2 separate regions of the Homo sapiens genome follow, and region 1 is linked to region 2. The links come from fine-mapping of genetic effects on gene expression. A gene starts in region 2. The other region holds a variant in brackets. All regions are shown on one strand. Distances are between the middles of the regions.

Region 1 (4,398 bases), 55 kb before region 2:
AGAAAAATTTAAACATGATTTATAAAATAGAATTTTATTTTGATTTTTCTTGAATATATGCAAATTTTCACCTATCTAATGTATTTGGAAAATTTTAGACCGAACTAGCAAGTATAACTGTTTTAAGGAGTTATTTGAATGGTTACAGAAATATGGTTGGGTTTTAGAGCCCTGAGAACTGTACAGTGGGTGTCTCATATAACAGAAATGATTTACTATCCTAAAACTATCAATGGTTATTTTACCAAATTCAGAATGCCACTAGTTTCACAGAGGACAGAGTAATAATCAGTAATTCCAGCTCAGATGATCAATAGATAAGCATTAAAAACTGAAAGAAAAAAAAGTTGGATTAACATTGTACTTTCCACGATATAATGCTGAAAAAAATTAACCCTTCTGCCCAACACAGTACTGAAATACCTTACCCTGAAACTTCATTTAATGCAGTCTTGAGACCTGTCACTCCTTAATATTCATGCAGACTTAAAATTAGCATCATTGGGAATTTCGTCACACAACCTGCAGTTCTCAATGCTATCTCAAGATTTACAGCTCCAAAGACATACTACAATCAGTGCCATGCATGGTAACACTACCAGTTGTGTTCCCCTAACTTTTAAGGTCTTAAAAAAACTTGGCTACCTGACAGTTTAGGCCTTTCTTTTTCAAATAAATAAAGGAAAACACTGGGAGTCTCAACTATGCAAATTTGTAAATAATTGCTTTCTACATAGCCTAGAATGATATTAGAAGAAAATCAGATTTAAAAAGTTTCATATTTACAATTAGATTTTCATAAAACCTAACTATGCATTTCTTTTAGAATTATGATTTATGTGGATTAAAATAATAATAACATAAAACAGTTGGAAGTCATTGTTCTGAAGATCTTCAAGAAGTGAGCAATTTCAGATGTCCAGAAGAGTGCCTTCTCTCTTTTTACTTATATTTTAAGGTACTTTATGCAGGACGCCCTTGACCAAAACGACTTTTAGACCTAGATTTTTTAAACAGAAAAGGAGGTCAGAATTGCTTCTAAAACAATAGGAAGTTGGTGCTCCTTTAGATTATGTTGGCTTGGCAACATCAAGGTTTAATAAATCTTCTTGCAGCTCCGTAATCCATTTTCTAAAACTCTTAACAGGAGATGTATTTTTGGAATTGAGATTTGTTACTTCTCAGAGATAATACGTTATGTACATTGTATATAATGGATCTGGAGCAGTGCCCCATAATCAAATATAAGTGGGATGAATAAAAAATATAAATGGTATCACAGCAGCTCAGTGCAAGTTTGAATTGCTACAAATGTATGAAAACACTTTCAGCTTTTTGAACTTTCTGGATTTCAGAATCATAAATAAGGAATTAGAATCTGTAATATTAATGTTCAAATCTCAGTAACTGTTAATCTCTAACAGAAAATTTGTGATGTAAAATGACATAAGACCCATCAGTTAGATTTTATTAAGAGAAATAAAATATAAAGCAAGGAGTGGTAAAGATTACAGTGATTTATATAAAGTATTAATATGTGATCTACAAACAGTACAAAAATTCTGCTACTTCCAGTAGCACTATAGCTTACATTTTTATCAGGAGTTGGCTCAGAATGAAGCTAGTCCAACAAGCAGAAAACTTTAAAAAATCCACAAAGCTATATTTTCATTAGATTTTATCTTTTAAGTTAAAATCTGTTTCTAATTAGTGCCTTGATAATATAATCATTGAAACAAAACATAAAACCAAACTCAAATGATATGTTTCTAGTGTTCATATGATTTATCTTAAAAAAAAAATTCACTTCAAAGCCACTGACACTCTGGTTTAGTTTATGCTGATTTACCTTGTGTTTTTCTCTGAGCTGCTTTGGCGTGCACTAACTGGCACTGAGGCCTTGATTTGTGCTTCCAGCCTGGAATAAATACCTCCTGCAAACTGCAGAATAAAGAAGCAATACTGTTATCTTCACAGAATCAATAGAAGCTCTGCTTTATTAAAATGGGATTACTTTTTAATTTAGAAGTAATTTTATTTTGATTTTTTAAATCCAGTCTTTTTGAGGTTTAATTTACATAAAGAAAAATGTACCATTTTAGTGTACAGGTGTGGGTTTTGACAAATGCATACAGTTTTATAACTACTGTCACAATGAAGACACAGAAAATAGTCCTATC[A/G]CCCCCAAGAAAATTCCCTTGTTCCCCTGTCAAGTCGATCTACCTACCACTACCAATTTCTGGCAACTATTTGTCTGTTTTCTATCCCCATAGTTTTGCATTTTCCAGAACATTATATAAGTAGAATCATATAACATGTAGCCACTTGAATCTAGCTTCTTTCACATATAGGAGATTCATCCATATTGATGCATACATCAGAAGTTTGTTCCTTTTTTTTGGAGACAGCATCTCACTCTGTCAGCCAGGCTGGAGTGCAGTGGTGCGATCAAGGCTTACTGCAGCCCTGACCTCCTGGGTGATCCTCCTACCTCAGCCTCCAGAGGAGCTGAGACCTCACAGGTGTGCACCACCATGCCCAATTAATTTCTTATTTTTTGTAGAAACAGAATCTCCCTATGTTGCCCAGGCTGGTCTTGAATTCCTGGGCTCAATGTTCTTTTTGAGATGGAGTATCGCTCTGTGTTGCCCAGGCTAGAGTGCAGTGGCACGATCTTGGCTCACTGCAACCTCAACCTTCCGGGTTCAAGTGATTCTCCTGCCTCAGCCTCCTGAGTAGATGGGATTACAGGCCTGCACCACCACGCCCAGCTAATTTTTGTATTTTTAGTGGAGACGGGGTTTCACCATGTTGGCCAGATGGTCTTGATCTCTTGACTTTGTGATCCGCCCGCCTTGGCCTCCCAAAGTGCTGGGATTACAGGTGTGAGCCACTGCACCCGGTCCAATGTTCTTTTTATATGCAGTTTGTTTTCCCATTTACCAGGTAAAGGACATCATTTATAGTATTTCTAGTTTTTAGCAATTATGAATAAAGCTATTATAAAAATGTGTGAATTGATCTGTATGGTGAGGGAATGTCTATAAGAAATTGCCAAACTATTTTCCAAAGTGACCATTCCTTTTTGCATTTCTACTAGCTATATATGAGAGTTCCAGTTGCTCCACATCCTCATCAGCACTTGGTATGGGTTTTTCCCTTTGGAGACAGGGTCTCGTTCTGTTGCCCAGGCAGGAGTGTAGTGGCGTGCTCTTGGCTCATTGCAACTTCTGCCTCCCAGGCTCAAGCGATCCTCCTACTTCAGTCTCGCTAGTAGCTGGGACTACAGGCATCCACCACCATACCTGGCTAATTTTTGTTACTTTTTTTTGTAGAGATAGGGTTTCATCATGTCGCCCAGGCTGGTCTCAAACTCGTGGGTTCAAGTGATCCTTCCACCTTGGCCTCCCAAAGTGCTGGGATTACAGGTGTGAGCCACTGTATCCGGCCTCATTTAGGTTTTAATTTACATTTCCCTAAGGACTAATGATGTTGTATCTTAGCACATCTAATGATATATGCTTATCTGGCATGGAAATCCTTTTTTTCATGGTGTCTGTTTACTCTTTTGCCCATTTATTTTTATTAGGTTTTTAAATTTTATTATTGAGTTTTGAGAGTTCTTTATAGATTCTGGATACACATTCCTTATCAGGTGTTTTACACATATTTTCTCATAGTTTATGGCTTGTCTTTTCATTGTCTAAATAGTGTCTTTTGAAAAGTAGAAATTTTAAATGCTGATGAAGTCCAATTTTTCATTTATGGATCATGCTTTTGGTGTTGTAGGCTAAGAAATATTTTCCTAAGGTCACAAATATTTTCTCCTATGTTTCCTTTTAGAAGTTTTATAGGGAAGTAAATTTTTAAATAAAAGAATTAGGGCAAGAGTATGGTACTTACATAATACCAATACTAATGATAATACATAATGTCATGACTAAAATGTAATTCTAGCAAGAATATAGGTGTTTCTTGTCACCATTTTCAGCAAGATGACATCTTATTTTAGAGATGACATCTAAGCACTACATGCAGAGTTGATGAAAATTGGTACTTTCAGACAGTCGCCTGCTGGATAGTTAGCATTTGGTCAACAACGCACAGTTAACCTACTCTTGGTGTGATGACACATTTTCAGCAATGATGTACTTTATTATATGTGTTATAGATGACCTATGGACCATGGATAATAAGACATGGTGGAAAACTTTTACGTGAATAAACAGGCTAACTGATACAGAATATAAAAAAATACATAAATGTGGCCAGGCATTGTGGCTCACGCCTATAATCCCAGTACTTTAGGAGGCTGAGGCGGGCAGATCACGAGGTCAAAAGCTCAAGACCAGCCTGGCCAACATGGTGAAACCCCGTCTCTACTAAAAATGAAAAAAT
Region 2 (4,398 bases):
CGATCTCGGCTCACTGCAACCTCCGCCTCCCGGGTTCAAGCGATTCTCCTGCCTCAGCCTCCCGAGTAGCTGGGACTACAGGCACGCACCACCACGCCCAGCTAATTTTTGTATTTTTAGTAGAGACAGGGTTTCACCATGTTGGCCAGGATAGTCTCGATCTCCTGACCTCGTGATCCGCCCGTCTCGGCCTCCCAAAGTGCTGGGATTACAGGCGTGAGCCACTGCACCCGGCCAGGGCGTTTTATTATAATTTGTTTGGGCCTTGGTAGAAAGCAATCTAAAATGGAATTCAGGGCAAGGATCTTCCCTGAGAGCTCATTTCTCTTCACTTCCAAAAAGATTCATTTAAAAGTTCAAAAATATTACCCACGTCAAACACTTAAAAGCTTACATTTCAAATGTGATACTAATTTATGCTATACATGTTTAAGAGTACTTTAAATCATCCAAATGAGAAAAAAGTTTTTCTGTTGACTTTCTCTTTATACAACTGTACTAGGCAAGGGAAGACCCCCCAGCATTAATTCTAGTTAAATGAATGTCCAAGAAATCAGAGTCTGAATTTAAGTATAAAAGGCATAGCATTGATGGATAATCCTTAATAAAACATAAATTATCTCGAAATAGCTGTTATAGTGCACCTCATTCAGGAAAGTATAAATTTATCAAAAACGGTGACAAGAAAAAGCTCAAAGTTCAAATTACTATGAAATCCACTCCCATTCATAAAATATCAAAATCTTGACAATATTTAAGGTAAAATACGTTATTTACCAAAAATAAAAATCCAATATGTTTAACAGACTTCATTTTTTAAGAACATACTTCCCCTCCCCTCCCCGACCCCCTTCTCTTGGTTTATGTATTTAATATACATGTATTAATTAAGAAGACTAGTCTAAGTCACTTCCACACCAGATAGAGGTCTACAACAGGAATCTGATATATTTTTTTCTTATTTCAAATAGAAAAAAAAGCTCTTGGAGACAGAGACGTTTTCCCTTAGCCAGTGGAAAGATGGGAAGAGAGGGGGCCCCGTGGGGCAGGCAGGCAGGCAGGTCAAAGGCCTCTGGCCTAACAGAGGGCGGCGGTAACACCGAGTCATCCCGGACCGGGAAGAAGCCTTGTACCCAGGCTTCCTGACTTCTGCACACACAGGAGATCGGAGTCAGCTGGAGGAGAAAGTAAAATCACATCCCAGAACCGGCATGAGGTCAAAGCCAGTCAAACCTTGGGCCCGGAGGCTCACTACGCGGCGCGTCCTCGGGGCACCCCCAGACCTTCGCGCCCCGCTCCCGCCCGTGGAGGCACAGAAACTCCAGGGGCGCAGAGCGGACAAAGGCGCCGGGCAGCGGGAGCGAGGCGGGGCAGAGGCCCGGGGCGCGGCCGGGCGCGCAGAAGCTGGGGTTCCCGCCGCTGTGCGCGGGCGGGACGGTCTGCAGGGACATGGACCGGGCGGGTGACGGGACGCGGGCCAGCTGGCTGCTCGAGGCGCGGCCGGCTGAGGCTGTGCACGGGGGCGTTCGGGGGCGTTTGGGCAAGTGGGACCCCGCCCGGGGTGGGAAGCCGCGGCGGGAGCCGGCTGGCTGTGAGCGGTACCGCCCCATGCCGCACTTCCCGCCCCGCGGTGGGCACCCGAGCCCCCTCGGCGTCTCGCTCACCTCCACAGGGCCGCGGCTGCCCTCGCAGCGCCTCTGTTACCTGCAGTGGTCGGCACCGCCCGCGCTCGCGCCCTGAAGCTGCCGCTACCGAGCCCGCAACCCCGTCCGCAGCGCCTCACACCCCGCCCCCGCCCGCTTGCAGGCGGCTGCGGAGACTAGCGCCGAGGGGTGGGGGAGCCGCCGAGCCGACGCCGCCCGGCCAATCGCGGGCCAGCGCCGCAGCGGCGGAGCCAATGAGCGCCGAGCCCCTGCCGGGCGGGAGGGCACCGGAGGGGCGGCGGCGGCTGACTGTCGCCTTGCCTTGCCTGCTGCTTCTCCTTCCTCCTCTGGCATACACTCCCAGGCTTGTCGCAGTGCAGCGTCCCCACCCTCCCAGCGTCTTGTCTCTTAGCAACCAGATCCTAGGAGCCTGATCTTAGGTGACCAACCCTGAGTCCAGAAGAAAGGGGGATATACAGGAGATAAAAGATTAAAGAATGGATGAAATTGTTCTTGGTGCAGATCATTTGGTACACCGCTTAGGTAGAGCGGAAAGATCGCATGATGAGGGACACCGAAAGTATCTTTTAGACCAAGGTCTTTGGGTAAGGACCTGAAGTGTCTTTACCAGGAGGTAGCTCTTTAAAAATGTAAATAGCTCTGGATTACAAATTCGGTTTTCATACATTAATAGGGTGTGTGTGTGTGTGTGTGTGTGTGTGTGTGTGTGTTATTGTGAGGAACACTACTATTGGGCATCTAGTAAAATGCAAACGGCTCAATATTGTAGGGTAACTGCTACATGTCAACATTTCTATCTAATTTCCACTTGGTCTATTCTGAGAACCAAAATTAAATGTTAGGATTAGAAAGAACAGAAAAAGTAAAGCCTTAACCAAATGAATAATTACTACGAGATCTGATGATTAAGTAGAGATTAAGTGGTTCACTGTACAGAATGTCAGGAGTTTTTACCAATTGTATCATCCTGTGACTTTCTGCAGATCTTTTACGATTTTTGTTCCACAAAGACATTAAAGTGGCTGGGTGCGGTGGCTCACACCTGTAATCCCATAATCCCAGCATTTAGGGAGACCAAGACGAGAGGATTGCTTGAGCACAGCCTGAACAACAAAGTGAAACCCTGTCTCTACCAAAAAAAAAAAAAAGTTGTTTTTTTTTTAAGTTAGCTGGGCGTGGTGGCCCCAATGAGCTATGTTTGCACCACTGCACTCCAAGCTGGGCAACAGAGTGAGACCCTGTCAAAAATAAAAATAAAAATAAAGTTAGGCAAGTGTCGTATCATAAGATGTTAGGTTAAGTCAGGTAAATTCTTTTTTTATTTTTTTGAGATGGAGTCTTGCTCTGTTGCCCAGGCTGGAGTGCAGTGGCACCGTCTGGGCTCACTGCAACCTCCACCTCCCTTCAAGCGATTCTCCTACCACAGCCTCCTGAGTAACTGGGATTTACAGGCGCATGCCACCATGTCCAGCTAATTTTTTGTATTTTTAGTAGAGATGGGGTTTCACCATGTTGGTCTTGAACTCCTGACCTCAGGTGATCTGCCCGCCTCGGCCTCCCAAAGTGCTGGGATTACAGGCGTGAGCCACCATGCCCAGCCAGGTAAATTATTATTATTTTTTTTTTGGAGACAGAGTTTCGGTCTTGTCACCCAGGCTGGAGTGCAATGGCGCGATCTTGGCTCACTGCAACCTCCGCCTCCCTGGTTCAAGTGATTCTCCTGCCTCAGCCTCCCGAGTAGCTGGGATTACAGGCGTGTGCCACCACACCCGGCTAATTTTTGTGTTTTTAGTAGAAATGGGGTTTCACCATGTTAGCCAGGCTGGTCTTGAACTCCTGACCTCAGGTGATCTGCCCACCTCAGCCTCCCAAAGTGCTGGGATTACAGGTGTGAGCCACCACACCCAGCCCCAGCCAGGTAAATTCTTAAACAGAAACTGCTTGCCCTCTACTTCCCCTCTTTCTTCTTTCATATAGGCTGGTACTTAGTTGTGATGGTGGTACTTTACAACCATGAAAACAAGAATAATGCATAAGGGGCTGGGCATAGTTAGCTCACGCTGTAATCCCAGAACTTTGGGAGGCTGAGGCAGGAGGATCACTTGAGGTTAGGAGTTCGAGACCAGACTGGTGAAACCTCATGTCTACTAAAAATACAAATATTAGTCAGGCGTGGTGGCGGGTGCCTGTAATACCAGCTACTCCAAGGCTGATGGGGGAAAATCACTTGAACCTGAGAGGCAGAGGTTGCAGTGAGCCGAGATGGTGCCACTGCACTCCAGCCTGGGCTACAGAGCGAGATTCCATCTCAAAAACGACAAACAAAGAATAACACATAAGGGACTGTAGAACACAATATAGCAGGAACCTGGGCCCTGAATTACCTTCTGAAGCAGAGTACCTCTGGTCTGTTCCATGAGAGAAAAATGTTTATCTTAACTACTGTATTTTTTAGTCTCTTTGTTACAGTGGCTTAGTGTATTCCCTAGAAGAGAAAGTTGGTTCCTGAAAGTGGTGTGCCACCTACCATAACAAAGATCTAAGATATATATGGCATTGGTTAGCAGGTGGAAACATATTGCAGGCCAGAAGGCTAGTGACTGTTCCCAAATGTATTGGGGAAAAATGTCACCCATATTAACTTGGAAGGCAGATCATCAAGCCCATATATAGCTCTGAGGAAAGCATCTAGAAAAGGCCAGAATGTGAGTTTGTGTTGGCTACCATTCCTTGC

Direction of the effects. Alleles are on the strand shown, and positions count from the first base shown. SD is a standard deviation of normalised expression in the study named.
As copies of A replace G in region 1, the expression in tibial artery of the gene that starts at base 1,821 in region 2 goes up (small effect, 0.16 SD a copy in GTEx).

What was found. PIP is the estimated chance that this variant, and not a neighbour inherited with it, causes the effect.
Region 1: its variant is the best candidate, but not a certain one, in a credible set for the expression of SANBR in tibial artery (GTEx, PIP 0.61).

Annotation. Positions count from the first base shown.
Region 1 is chr2:61,118,728-61,123,125 of GRCh38, reverse strand. It overlaps SANBR (SANT and BTB domain regulator of CSR), which reads right to left. Exons shown (of 22, transcript NM_001129993.3): 21 at 1,850-1,941; 22 at 1-1,000. The coding sequence ends at 964. Among named protein-coding and RNA genes, the nearest start is that of C2orf74-DT, 24 kb to the left of the region's middle. The variant A/G (reference allele first, on the strand shown) is at 2,181.
Region 2 is chr2:61,063,294-61,067,691 of GRCh38, reverse strand. It overlaps SANBR (SANT and BTB domain regulator of CSR), which reads right to left and starts at 1,821. Exons shown (of 22, transcript NM_001129993.3): 1 at 1,665-1,821. RefSeq lists silencers at 1,222-1,281, 1,292-1,641, 1,672-2,041 and enhancers at 931-1,430, 1,431-1,932.